Regions from separate parts of the Homo sapiens genome. Here region 2 is reported to be linked to region 1. The links are microRNA targets in miRTarBase. Many come from high-throughput screens and were not tested one by one. Region 1 holds a microRNA gene; the other region holds the end of a gene's coding sequence.

What was found. Region 1 holds the annotated microRNA hsa-miR-3151-5p (GGUGGGGCAAUGGGAUCAGGU, at 3,082-3,102, opposite strand). A microRNA usually pairs through its seed, bases 2 to 8, with sites in the 3' UTR of a target mRNA and lowers its output. Matches are read on the target gene's strand: a 7mer-m8 pairs with bases 2 to 8, a 7mer-A1 pairs with bases 2 to 7 and ends in A, and an 8mer does both.
Region 2: miRTarBase lists RNF40 as a target of hsa-miR-3151-5p. Seed matches in the 3' UTR shown: 7mer-m8 at 6,487-6,493 and 7mer-A1 at 5,113-5,119.

What each region holds. Positions count from the first base shown.
Region 1 is chr8:103,150,605-103,157,724 of GRCh38, reverse strand. MIR3151 (microRNA 3151) reads right to left here and starts at 3,111; the gene lies at 3,036-3,111. All of the region lies in intron 1 of BAALC (BAALC binder of MAP3K1 and KLF4), which reads right to left. It overlaps BAALC-AS1 (BAALC antisense RNA 1), which reads left to right. Exons shown (of 3, transcript NR_109954.1): 3 at 687-735.
Region 2 is chr16:30,773,567-30,780,686 of GRCh38, reverse strand. RNF40 (ring finger protein 40) reads right to left here. Exons shown (of 20, transcript NM_014771.4): 20 at 4,380-6,749. The coding sequence ends at 6,573. It overlaps ZNF629 (zinc finger protein 629), which reads left to right. Exons shown (of 3, transcript NM_001080417.3): 3 at 1-2,231. Among named protein-coding and RNA genes, the nearest start is that of ZNF629, 10 kb to the left of the region's middle. RefSeq lists enhancers at 4,328-4,437, 4,767-5,443, 5,444-6,122 and a silencer at 4,768-4,847.

The DNA.
Region 1 (7,120 bases):
AGCAGGCTTAGCCTCCAGAATAGCTGGGACTACAGGCATGCACCACCATGCTTGGCTAATTTTTTAAAAATAATTTTTTTATAGAGATGAGGCCTCACTATATTGCCCAGGACGGTCTCATACTCATAGGCTCAGGTGATCCTCCTGCCTCAGCCTCCCAATGTGCTGGGATTACTGGTGTGAGCCACCATGACAGCCCCAATATCTTTTTAAAAGAGTCCTAATTTCTTAGAGATTCATACTAAAGTATTCATGGATGAAGTTACATGACTTCCGGAATTTGCTTCAAAATTACCCAATTGATGAAGGGGAATGGAGGCAGAGATGAAACAAGATTTGCAATGCGTTGAAGCTGTGATGGATACGTGGGGGTTTATTATATAATATTATCCAAATATATATATATATAGCTTGAAATATGTGCGTATAAAGTTTCAAATTTTCATATATGTTTGAAATGTTATATTAAAAAATGTCTAAGGCTACAATTAAGGGGTTCTAGAATTGTTTTGAGCAATTGCAACCAGATGGTGTTTGATGCTCAATTGAAGATATAATCTCCATTTGTGTGTGGTGTGTGTGTGTGTGTGTGTGTGTGTACCTACACACATATTCAGATCACCTTTTCATATAACTTTTTTGTATATCATATACATTCCACACTAATTTTTTGCTTACTGCTACAGGGTTTTGCAATCCCAAGAAGAGTCAGCGTTTGAATTTTGAATTTATGTGCAAAAGAGACAAATATGGCTAAAGGGCATGGGCACACTCTCTCTGGGTCCCCGTGTTAACGATTTTAGTAGCTTCTATTTAAATGGTGCTCTTTCTCTAAGAAGATCATTGGGTATTTTCTGAAAGCTTACATAATGGCTGGAAGCCCCCTGCCTCTGCAAAGGAACACCTGATTCAGAAAAGTAAACACCATAACAGCAACCCATTCATCAGCTGCCCAGACTCACAACCAAGCAGACATGCAGCGACTTTCCAAAAACCCTCATTTCTGGCATTACAGCCTGTGGCAATAACAGAGTTAAGGAAAGGTAAGTGAAACTCAGAGAGACACAGTGAGATAATTATTCCTCACGCCTGTTAGAAGAACATTCCACCGTCTCAGAAGAAGCCCTGTCTGAATCTGATTCAGCTGAGAAAACAACTCAGGCCATGGTAGCTGCACCCAACTCTCTAAATCAACAGTGACCTGTGCTGAAGGGATTAAGGCATCCCAACATTCCTCAGAGCCCAAGGCAAGGAGAATCCCTTATGAAGATGAAATTGATCTTCAAGCACCCTCTACCTTACTCTGCGTGATGCCATATTCTTCCTGAATCCCACCCAACTCAAGAGCATGATTTGCATAATAAAATCTCTAATACTTTGATGAACAAATGTTATCCAAGATACTTTAAAAACTGCCTTCACGGTGAGAAATGAACTTAATTCCATTAATTCATTGTCTGTTCGTTATTCTAGAAACATTATTTGAGTGTTCAGCATGTGCTGAGCTATTTAGAGATGTTTCTGAGGGCTAGGACTAGTAACTGCAAATCCTATGCTTTTTTTTCTCTCTTCCACACTGCCTTGGGGATTAAAGACAGTGGCTCTTAAATCTGGCTGTGCTTCAAAATCATCTAGGACAGGAGTGGGCATTGGAACACAGACACGCTCATTCATTTATATATTGTCTATAGCTGCTTTGGCATTAAAAACAGAGAAGTTGAGTAGTTGCAAAAGAAATCACGTGGCCCACAAAGCCTGAAATATTTACCCTCTGTCCCTTTACAGAAAAAGTTTGCTAACCTCTGATCTAGGACCTCTGGACCAGCAGCATCAGCATCACTTGGAAGCCTGTCAAACATGCAGAATCTCAGGTCCACCCCAGACCCACGAAATTTCACTCTCCACTGACCTAGAGAACATGGAGACACTGCAGGTTTTCTAGCTGCACTCCCACTACCAAATCAGAAGTGCCTGGGGTGGGACGTTTGTTTGAGATTCCCCAGGTGAATCTGATATGCAGCCACTAGGGAAGCAGAAAGATGAGTAAGGTGATTACTGCCAGGTCTTCCTATGGGACGGCAGCACCAGATTCTCCAGCTGCTAGGAGAGTTAGCCGCTAAAGGATCACAGCTGAGTGCCTCTCCAGGCACTGCTCCTGTGGAAGGAAATGACCTTACCCAAGGTCACACCTACTTGCTAGGGGAAGACTGCATCCAGCGCCTGGCCGATACAGGGTAAAAAGGCCCAGTCTTCTCAATTGCTGAATGGCCATCCCAGCTCCAGAGCTCCCCAGGGCATCAGCTGAAGCCCCTATTACAACAGCCATTCCACTCCTCCCTCTGCCCTGGACTGTGCCCCTCACCCTATTAGAGAAACTGGGATGCTGACTGAATTATTATTACATTAGAGAATTAAGAAGTTTTCATTAATTTTTAGGTGTGATGATGGTATCATGGTTATATATTAGTTTGAAGTATATGAAATTGCTAATATTACACTATTTCAACCTACAAAAATAACAAAATGGTCCAATCTAATATCTTTTTGGTCCAATCTAATAGATATGGTCCAATCTAATATCTTTTTTAAAGAGTCCCAGTTTATTAGAGATTCATACTGAAGTATTCATGGATGAAGTTACATGACTTGTGGAATTTGCTTCAAAAATGTTTAATTGGCGAAGTGGAATGGAGGCAGAGATGAAACAAGCTTTGCAATATGTTGATAATTGTTGAAGCTGATGATGGGTACATGGAGGTTTATTATACTATTCTCCATATATATTATATATATATATATATATAGCTTGAGATAGGTAAGAGGCCCACATCACAGGTGGTGTTACTAGAGCTCTCTCCAGTAAGGGTTTACCTCAGAGTCTGTTTCTTGGCTCTGTCTTTAAGAGTATACAGTATAATAGCAGAGATAAGTCACAATCATAAATAAGAAAACTCAAAAGGGAGTAAGTGTCCTAAATGGTGTGTGCTATCAGGGAACACATAACTGAAGCAGAAGGGCAGGAGCAGCAGGCTTTTGGGGTGACAGGTGGGCTGTGGGATCAGGTGGGATGCCCTTTGAGGCACCTGATCCCATTGCCCCACCCATCACCCCAAAGGTTGTATGGAGAGGCTGGAGAGAAAGCCTTGAATTCCATACTAAGACATTTGTATTCAGTAGATAGTGGGAAATCATGAAAGGCTTTGAGTGGAAGAATAACACAATAATGATCCCAGCTGTACTTGGGAGTATTTACCTGGCAATAATGTGAAGGGGATTGGAGTGGGAGTGACTGGGGGTGTGAAGACTAGTCCAAAAGTTGTTGCAAATGTCTAGGTGAAAGGCGGTGAGGACAGAAGCTAGCAATCCATGAAGGGGCTGGTGTACAGGAAAGACCACAGGGCTCAGAATGAGACAGACCTGAGTTCCAAACCCCACCCCACTGCTCACAGCCCGTGTACATTTAGACAAGCCATCCCACCGCTCTGACTACCCCCTTCTGTAAAATGGAAATAACAGAGTTAGCTAATAAATCTGCAAAGCCCGGCACATGCTGAGCACCCAATTAATGGAAGCCACACCATGAGGTCGTAGCTGTGTTCGTTTGTGCTTGTACATCATCACTTATCACCCCAGCAAGAAAGTGTGAGCCTGACTGCTATGAAGACTGCCCTTGAAAAGTGATTCTTGGAGGTAATCGTTTAATGAGGCCTCGGTTTCAAACATGCCAGTTGTTTATTGAGGTGCTTAAGCCTGAATCATTCCTCTTAGGAAGGGTGCACAGGCGGTCTCTGCTTCCATTGTAACCGCTGCCATGCCCTGTTGTCATGGTGACCAGTTTCCCAAACTGCCCTGCTATTTTCTGCAAGCCTTTCCAGTTTCTTAACGCCCTAAAGTCCACAAGCCCTAGAGACAGCAGCAGGTTGGGTTTTTTGAACTTCCACAGAAAACACTGTCAACTCTTTAAATTTGCCAGTTGGCTGCGAGCTGCTTCTCCAACAGAAGCTCCCAGCCTGAGCAGCAGTGTGACCCTGCACAGCAGACACCCACAAATGTTCCCACTAACTGGAAATTGGTGCCATGGAATATTAGCTGGCACATCAGTCTCTGGCTGGCATTAATCTTGCAGGAAAATAAGGCAGAAGACAAGGGAATGTCCACCATGCATTTCACGTACACAGCACAGTCTGAAGTTAAAAGACCATTCTAAAAGATTAAAGTTTAAGGTATTGCATTATTTTTAAAAATTATTTCAATATTAGCATATGTGGTTTTTCCAGAGAATGTTCACCTTATGAACTTACTTGAAACATGAAAATATTAAAAACAATATTATTATTGTTGTTACGGCAAAATTGTAACACTAGCAATCATGTCACCTTGGTTTCTGGCAGAACTTCTCTCCCTCCTCACTTACCTAATTCCTTTCCCCCTTCTTGTTCCTGGAAATCTTCTCTCCTCTCTGACCACAGCTATAGGATGAAAGAAGTGACCACTCTGCTGGCAGCCTGCCCAGTATCTGTTCTCCCCATTTTTCCTTTGCCAAGAGGACCCTGATACTTTTAGGGTAGCTTGAAAGTTCCCTGTGTGGAAGGAAATGACCTCACACAACATCACATCCCCTTGCTGGGGAAGCCCACATCCAATGCCTGGTCAATATAGGGTAAAAAGCTAAAAGTTTTGAGTTCCTAGACACCCTTGTAGCCCAGAACACCTACATCATACACTTCTGACCAATAAGACCCAAGCAAAGTTTACTGGGTTTGAGGAAAACTGTCATTTTACAGATAAGGAACAGATCAGGCAGAATGCCCCTTTCTGCCCGTCTCCTTCTTCCCATTTGAAATAAGATGGTGCAGCATCTCGCAGCCATGAGGATGAAATCCACACACTAAGGATGGCAGAGCAATAAAGCCAAAGGAGCCCAGCTCCTCCACAGTGTCCGTGACTGGGTGTGGCCGCCGACCTCCAGACCTCTGTGCAGACCTTCCATGGGCTAAATCCCATTCCTGGAGTTGGTTTCTGTTCAGGCAGCCAGATGCAATCCCTAACTGGTACAAAAGGTGTGGAGGGTTCCCTTCATTCAACAAACATCCACCGAGTGCCTACTCTGTGCTGGGCACTGTTCTAAGCACTTGGACTGTAACAGTGGGTGAGTCCATCAGATCCTTGACCTCTTGAAGCGAGAGAGTCAAGAAATAAACAGTAAACGAACAAGACAATGACAGGCAGTGGTGTTAGGAAGGAAATGACCAGATGGCCACTGGGGAAGGCTGGTCTCTCTGAGGAGGTGACATCTGAACTGAGAGCCAAAGGGTGAAGAGGAGTTAACCACACAGAGGGGGCGGGTGTGGGGAGGAAGCACATTGCAGCAAGTGTGAAGGCCTGTGACAGGAAGGGGCTCCATGTATTCAGAGAACAGAGGGGAATCAAGCGTGGCCGGAACACGCTGAGCAAAAAACAGAGCAGAGTAAACAATGAAATCATGCTGGAAAATCAGCAGGGACCTCGTCATGCAGGCCCCTGGAGGCCAAGGAAGGGACTGGGATTTTATTCTACACATAGTAGAACAGGAAGCTATCAGAAGGCATTAAACAAGAGAGTGACAGGACCTGACATATGTTTTTAAAAGATCGTTCTGCCTATGACATGAAGAATGAATTGTCAAGGGTATGAATGGAAGCAGGCTATGGCAGATGTTCAAGTGGAAGACGGATGTGGCTTGGGCTTGGGGAGGGCCCATGGAGATGCAGAGTAGACCTTCATCCAAATGGAGCTGCCTGTGAGGTTCCCGTATATGGTTACAACAAGGGGCAACCTTGTCAGTGCACTTAGAATTCAAATGGACAGACTAGGAGGAAAGGATCGCTAAAGATGTTTAGAAATGCTCAGATGGCAAGAAGGATGTATGCTGGGTCACTGGAAGGAAAAATGGGAGAATTCACGGCAAGTCTGTGATTTTTTTTTTTATATTCAGAGGGAAAGTATAGGATAGCATCAGGGGCTATTATATGGGGTCTGTCACCGCATATTAATGAGGAATGAATAGAATTGCTGAGAGGTGGTGAGATCATTGTTCTAGAGCATGAATTGCTTATAGGGGCAATCATAACATGCATGACTTTTTCCAGAAATGCTGGGCAGCTCCAAAACAAGAGTGTAAGGAACAGAGGGGAAGGGTGACCCAAGGTTTGAGATTGGCATGACAAGCCTGGTGCAAGCGTGAGGATGTGAGGGGATCCTGGCTGCTAGAATGCACAACACTGAAACACTAAGCCCTTTGTACTTGTGAATGCATTAATTCTTCGATAAGTCCCATCCTACAATGTGGAAACTGAAACCCAGAGAGGCTAAGAAACTTGCTGAGGGTCACACAGCTGATAAATGCCTGTTGTTAAAATCAAATTCCTAGGCCGGGTGAGGTGGCTCACACCTGTAATTGCAGCACTTTGGGAGGCCAAAGCAGGCAGATCACGAAGTCAGGAGATTAAGACCACCCTGGCTAACACTGTGAAACCTCATCTCTACTAAAAATACAAAAAATTAGCCGGGCGTGGTGGCAGGTGCCTGAAGTCCCAGCTACTCGGGAGGCTGAGGGAGGAGAATCGCTTGAACCCAGGAGGCAGAGGTTGCAGTGAGCTAAGATTGAGCCACTGCACTCCAGCCTGGGCAACAGAGCGAGACTCCATCTCAAAAAAAAAAAAAAAATCAAATTCTTTAACATTGCAACTATTATATTATCTCCAAACAAAGTAGCAGGGAGGGTGATGGATGAAGAGAGCAGGTTGAGGCCCAGGGACCCGAGGTCATGATCCTTGTTAAAAGCTGGCTCACTAGTTGGGGAGGAAGTGTATGAAATTGTAAACAGAGACCGGATCTGGCCGGGTGATCCTGTGGGTGTGGCTGTATCAGAATTCAGGATAATGGCTTAGAGAAGAAGGTCAAGAATCCCTGGGTTGGATATCCAGGCCAAAGGGCATCAGCTTTGCCTAACTGCCCACTAAAATGCCTGTGAAGACATAGAAAAAGACCAAGACTCACAACATCACCACAAGTGAAGACTGGTAGGCAACCTAATCCCAGAATCTAGGAGAAGCTGGCATCATTTGTAAAGCAGATTGTG
Region 2 (7,120 bases), not on the chromosome of region 1:
CCCTTTCTCCCTGCCCAGCCAGGGACTTCTACTCTGCAAGGCCTCCAGGGATGGCGGTTGCCTCCCACCACATTCTCAGGTCTCACCTTCAGGAGGTTTTTCCTGAAATCTAACTGCCGCCAGTGGCAGCTCATTTCCTCAAATTCTGTCCTCAGTGGAGAGGGAGAACCGCTGCTAGTCGACCTCCAAAGAATAAAGCCCTTCAGAGACTTAGGGCCTGCGTGTGGGCCTCCCCAGCCTTCTCCAAGTCATCAGGGCCACAGAATTTCTTAGAAAGCTTTGATTAGCCAGCAACTTGATTTTAAACTTCAGCTATTCATCTTTGTTGGTAGCAAGGCTGCCCCGCAGGATAAGGCAGCCCTCCTCCCTGGTGGGGATCCAGACACCCCACAGACTGAGCCACAGGTCCCTGAAGAGTCCGCAGAGGCCGTATCACCCTCTTCACCCTGGTACCTGGAGCCCTCCAGGGTTGTGAGATCCAGCCCAATCTCAGCCTTGAGATGGATGGGATGGATTCCACTCACTTGGCTCCCCTCTCCTCCTTAGCCAGAAACCTTCAGAAGGAAACAGAAGGATGAGAAAGCCTCCCTTGCCAGGCCCATCTCACCTCCCACACCACACAGTTACACATTCATAAACAGCCAAGCCTGCTCACAGGCCTGGGCATATGTGGCTGGGGAGAGACTGTTGCCCTATGAGATGGTGGAAGACAGAAAACTCTTGAATGAAACATCTGTAACAAGACTCCCACTCCCTAATCCTGGAGACCCCTTCAAAAGGAGAGGACTCTGCTCAGCGCTGGGTCAGAAAGGAAGTGCTTGCCAACCCCAGTAATGCGCTGTCCTGGAGTAAGAGGACTGAGATGCCAGCTGTGGGGCCCGTCAGGAGTCACGTCTCAAGAGAGGGGTGACCCAGATTTTTGCAAAGCTGTGGAAGAGACCTCTAATTCCATGACCTAAAGTTTCACACAACCTTTATGCAAATCCTTCGCCATTTGTCTATCCTGGCCCCAGCAGGATGACCCTCACATTTAAAAGGATCAAAATCTCAAACATTGTGGGAGGAAAACGCCAGGCCTGCTGGGGAGAGGGAGAAGGCAGGCCTCAGGATTGTGCGGAGAACCATGTTGCCATCTGCATAACGCCCCAGCCTATCCAAGTGCCAGGAAGGGAAGCACTACTGAGGGGGGTGCTGCCTGTGGGTCTCTTCCTAACAGAACGCCAACGAAGGGGGTGCCCTGTAAGAATGAGAAGTCTGCCAAGTCTAAGGAGATGTCCCCCTCCCCAAGATGGTAGCAGAAACTGAAGTTGTAAAGACAAACCTCTCGCAAAGCCAGAAGCAGATGCTCTCAAAAACAGGCCTAAGGAATCTGTTCCCAGAAGAGGCCTGGGGAGCAGCTTTTGGGGCTCAGAGGCCAGTCTGGGGGGAGGCAGGCAGTGTGACTGAAGGCCGGCGCAGGCCTGTTTCGGACTAGGGTGTAGCATATTTAGTAGGATGCTCACATGTTGTAGGGATGGGTGAGGGCTAAGGGGCTTGGCTCTTGTACGGGATGGATGATGTGAGCGCACAGTTCGTAGGGTCAGGCGTCTTGCGGTAGGAAAGGGGCAGGGTTCGATACCTCTGGGGTGTGGCGTGTTCTCTCTTGCCCACCTCCCCAAGCTCCTTTAACCAGGAGCTTCCCTCCCAGAGTGAGCTACGTCTTGGGAGGATTGAAGCAGGGAGGTGGCAGTGGCTAGAGTTGCTCAGATCGGCTCAGATGAAGGCCCAGGGGTCAAAGCATTTGCTCACCACAACTGAGTCTGGAAGGCACTGTGCAGCCAAACCCTCTTGTCCAATCACATGCAGGCCCCAGGCCCCTCAGAAACGCCCTGGTGGAGGGAGGAGCCCAACAGATAGGGTCAGGGAGTCAGTGGGGAAAGCAGAGGGGAGAGCTTAGAGTGAAACTTGAAACTGCTATGGACATGGAGGTCAGATGGGAACTTGGAACTGGGCATGAATCCTGAATGGTGGGGAAACTTGAAGCCATCACAGCCAAGAGGTGGGGTTCCATGACCTGCCCTGAGGTCAGCAGCTCCCAGACTCCTTTGCCCTCACTAGGGAAGCCCCAGTCACCGGACTTGTCCCCATGGAGTGAAGAGAGGCCCCATTTTTGAGTGTTGTGTGTCCAAAACAGTGTTGTGTCACTGGTGGTCATGTTGCTTAGTTGAAGAGAATAAAGGGAATAAGATTTCCTGGGTGTTTCTTGTTTTTTCTTTCAGCCTAAAGTGAGCTGAAAGAGTGTGGCCTCACCTTAAGCCGGAGCCCAGGAGTGACTGCAAAAGCTCAGCCCAGCCCCAGGCCCACCCTTCACCCAGGGGCCCTAAAATCCCCATCCATTGCTGGCTTGTGGGAAGCTGAAGAGTTTATGAAGTTTTAAGCTGCAGTCCCTTGGTGCGGAAAGGGATAAATCTGATGAGATGGCAGCCAAGCTAAGCTGTTCTCATCGGTGCCTGGCCTTCCCACCAGCAGGACTGCAGAGTGGCCGCCTGGTGGCTCTGGCGCTGGCCAGCTCAGGCCCAGCTGTGCAGCCCCAGGGAGGCCTCTCTGACCACCATACCCGCAACCTGCCACAGGGAAGTTCTGAGGATCTAGTTTCAGAAGCTGGCATCCACCACTCCTGGTTCACTTGGGGACCCTGGGAGAGGTGGGTGGAGACCTGGCTTGTCATCACTGCCAGGATGTCAGCCCTTGTGCCCTCACTGTGTGGAGAGGCGAGGCTCAGAGAAGGGCAGCCAATTGCCCAAGATCCACAGCAAGTCCGTGAAGGAAACCAGAATGGCCAGGAACTCAAGCATGTTTTGTGCCCACTCCATCCCAATCTCAGGCCTGCCTCAGTGCTCAGTCTCCTGGGCCCTGGGCCTGGCCATGGGGGATTGGGGGAATCCTGCCCCAGCCAGAAAGTGTCTCCCCACCTTTCCTGTACCCCTCTGACCACAACCCAGGGCAGGTTCAGTGTCTCCTTCCCTTCCCCACCTGGAAAGGGGGGTGGGAGGAGAGGAGAAGCAAGTAATGAAGGCTACTCTACATTCTCTGTGTGCCAAGCCCTGGGGACACTGAGGTCTATCAGGAGTCCCAGTGCTGGAGAAATCTGCAGGAAAGTGACTACAGCAGAAGAGCAGACACAGGGCAGTGACTGCCTCAGAGATTTCGCAGAAGGGCTGTGGACCCAGAGATGGTGCCTGCCACAGTGGAGGGTCAGGAAGCTTTCCGGGGAAAGTGACCTGAAGGATGAGGGCTGCAAGAAGACCCAAGAGTAGGTGTATCGGCTGGGGGTGGGATGGAGGACAGGGGTGCATAACAGTTGGGTATGGGCTTAGAGCAGAGAGGGGACTATGGGAAGACAGAGGCAGAGAGCAGAGCCCACAGTGTGGAGCCCCTGGAGGAGCTCGGGGAAGGTACCACTTGGGGATATTTGAGAGTGACATGATCTCTCTTCTCTCCACAAGAACAGTGGTGATTCTCCAGGTCTGGAGCTCAGGAAAGAGGAGTGGCTGGAGCAGTTAGGTCCTTATCAGCTTAGCTATAGCCATAACCATGAATAAACACACACAAAGTGGCAAAGTAGAAGGTCTAGTTTAGGGGTGGAGGAAGAGGACCAGCAGAAGACAGTATGAGAAAAACCAGGACAGGACAGCGTAGCACCGTCGGATGCAAGGGAAGTTTTGAGAAGACAGCGGTCTACATCAGGCAACCCACTGGCCAATCACAGGCAGTGCCCAAGGTCTGGCTGAAACGGGCATGTCCACCACTGATGCCAACATCTGTTCACTCCCAAGAAGACAGCCAAGGTCGGGGTGGGCCCAGGAGTAGTTTTGGTCTGCCAGTCCCTGGGCAGCAGCCCAGGGTACCGCTGCCACTGGGACCACTAGGGGTGGTAAGCAGTCAAAAAATTAAGGCAAATCCTCCCGGCACCGGAGCCTCATGGGAAATGTTTATTAAGAGTTTGGTTCCTGGCCGGACACAGTGGCTCACGCCTGTAATCCCAGCACTTTGGGAGGCCGAGGCAGGCAGATCATGATGTCAGGAGTTTGAGACCAGCCTGACCAACATGGTGAAACCCTGTCTCTAAAAATACAAAAATTAGCTGGGCGCAGTGGTGCACGCCTGCAGTCCCAGCTACTCGGGAGACTGAGGCAGGAGAATCGCTTGAACCCGGGAAGTAGAGGTTGCAGTGAGCCGAGATCGTGCCACTGCACTCCAGCCTGGGAGACAGAGTGAGACTCCGTCTCAAAAAAAAAAAAAAAAAAAAAAGGTTTGGTTCCTGCCACCACATCAGTGGTTGCTGCCTCACTGACATTGTGGGATCTTCACCCCGTTCCCTTGGACTTGACCTTGAAAAAGTGGTTTGATGCCGACTTTTATTAGGTATGAAGACCCACGAGGAGAGTTTTGCCCCTCTGATAAGGAGACCGGGTGGCCTTTAGCGCAGATATCTAGAGAGACGATGCGGAATTACTTGGCATCTACTCAAGAGCCCAGGCGAAGGCTACTCCTGGAAGGGGACCGCGCTTACGGAGGCCTGGCTGACCTCCACCCGTGACCGGTGCGGCGCTCCTGAGACTGGCGCTCTCCAGGGGCGAAGGTGGCCGCGTCTCTATGATGCAATATCCTGCGTTTTTCCCACCCTCGCACCGCTGCCCCAGGCCATCGGCACTTTCTCTGCGGCCCGATGTCCTCCCCTGCCGCGGCCCGCGCTTCCACCAGCGTGCCCGCCGCCGCCGGCCCTACGCCCGAGGTCACCGTGGCGGCCCGCGTCTCCTTCTCCAGTTCGTCCTGGTCCAGCAGCGGCGGCCCCGCTTAAGTCCCGGGCGCCAATAGGGTCCGAAGGCGCCACCGCTGAGACGCACGCGGCCCCTGCCGTGGCCATAGCACTGTCGCCAGCGCCTGAACCAACACCGCTCCGCACCGGCTCTGGCGCCAGCCCCAGTCCTGCCTCGGTGAAGGATCCGCCCGGGGCGCCTGCAGCGCGCTGAGCCCAGGGGCGCCGCTCGGTACACGCCGCACCGCTCCCGAGGCCGATTGCAACGAGGGAAGTCACCCAGCTGAGGTGTCCCGATCTGTGCATTCGAGTGGTGTGGGGGTGAAGCCGCTGAGAAGCGGTCCGCAGGATCCAGTTCAGGCCGGCCTTTGGCCAGCGCAACCGGGAAACTAGCTCTCTCTCCGAGAACCTCCTAACCATGTGCGGACCAGGAACTACACTTCCCAGGATGCAGCCCGAGGAGTCCCGGCATCCCCCGGCCATGACAGCCAAGGACGTGGTCAGACCGGGGTCGGTGGGAGCAGGACAGGCGGCTCCGCGACGACCACCACGCTCTCCCCTTCAGGCCCAGTCCGGGATCCCTGCCGGCCGTTAAGTCTGAGCCCTCCCAGGCTCACACCAAGCCAGCAAAGTGCTGCTCAGCTGCTGCAGCTAAAATCGGGGGACTACATTTGGGGTGCGCGGCCTGGCTACTCTGGCTGCAGGCCGAGGGTTGAACGTTTATTCATCACAATTAACAGCCTATACAAGCATCTCTAGAACAGAGGCTGTGGGTCCAAACGGGTCCCTGCAGCTCCAACCCTCTGGCCTCTCCGGGCACTGCCCTCACAGCCGATGGAGCATGGCTGGGCAGGCAGACAGGACACAGGCTCAGTCACAGGGTGTCAGGGGGAAGCTCTTCTAGCTGGAATGATTGGAAGTTGGCCCAGCGGCTGGGGCTGGTCTGTCCCTTCCCCTCCTGGGAAGTTCCACCTCCACTGTAGTTAAGGCCACCAGGATGAAAGCAGGGTTAGGTCCAGGGACCCAGTAGAGCCTTGGGATGCATGAGGTGGGGGTAAATGGGCTTGGCAGAGAAATGGAGATTGGGAAGGGGCCTGATTAGAATAGAAACTGATGATGTTGGTTCAGCACCTGCAAGATGAGGAAGGTGACTGCAGCAACCTTAGAGCTTCCCAAAGGAAGCAAGTGATGCCCCCATCTGCCAAGAGGGTACCTCCTTCAGCCCTTGGCACAAGAGCCAGACCAAGGTGTCCAGGGAACTCCACAGGACAGAAGCCCTGCCGAGGTTAGGGGGATGGTGGGTGAAGGAAAGTCTTCCTGGGGCCTGCAGCCCAGTCTCAAACAAGGAACAAGGACATGGCTCACTGGTCCTCATTTGTGAGCCAGTAGGCAGGGAGCGAGCCTTCTCTAGGGTAGATCACAGCCTGGGGAATTTTCCTTAGGGTTAGGATGCATCCACGGAGACAGACAGGTTAGGGCCAGTTTCCGGGAAGCTCAGTCAAGTGCTCTGGGCTCCTCAGGCCTCTCAGGCAGACCTTTTCTGTAGGGCAGTGCCCCCTAGGCTGCAGCTCTGACCTTTAGGAAAAGATGGAACGAAGCTTGGCTGATCCCATGCCCACTAGCATGCACCAGGGTCCCCAAACCAACTAGATGGGCAGGGGCTGGGCCCATGGGGTCCGGAATGGAGGGTGGGGCCACTAGACCTGGGGTGGGGAGGAGATGGGGGCACAGCCCCCAGGGTCCATGGTGTTCCAGAGTCCCCTGAGTTTCAGGTTCAGCTGATGTAGATACGATGGAAGTCGTGGGCACCAAAGGCCGCGTTGCACTTGGGGCACTTCCTCTGGCGGGCCTCATAGCGGCCCCGCACGCACTCGAAGCAGAAAACGTGGAAGCACTTGGTAAGGACTGCATCCTTCTTGCGGGTGTTACAGCAGGGGCAGGTCAACCGCGCCTGGGCCAGGCAAAGGCATCAGCTTGGGAACAACTCTGACAGTGCCCAGACCCCAAGCTGACAGCAGGAGGAGTCCAGGCCAAGCCCACCACACTGGAGACTGCACCTCATCCTCCCATAACCCTGGAGGTAAGGACGAGCACTCTATGAATGAGCAAACTGAGGTGCAGAGGCCAAGGTCTCAACACTAGAAATCAGCAGAGTCCGGATTCATCACTGGGCAGTGATGGCTATCATGTGTCCCCTCAAAAGGACAAGGACCCACAGGCCCAGCCTGGACTCTGCCTTGGGGCTTCATCTCCTGCCCCACTGGCCGCCTCTGGTGAAATCCCAATCTTGTCTACCTCTTCACCTGCACTTGCTAAGTCACA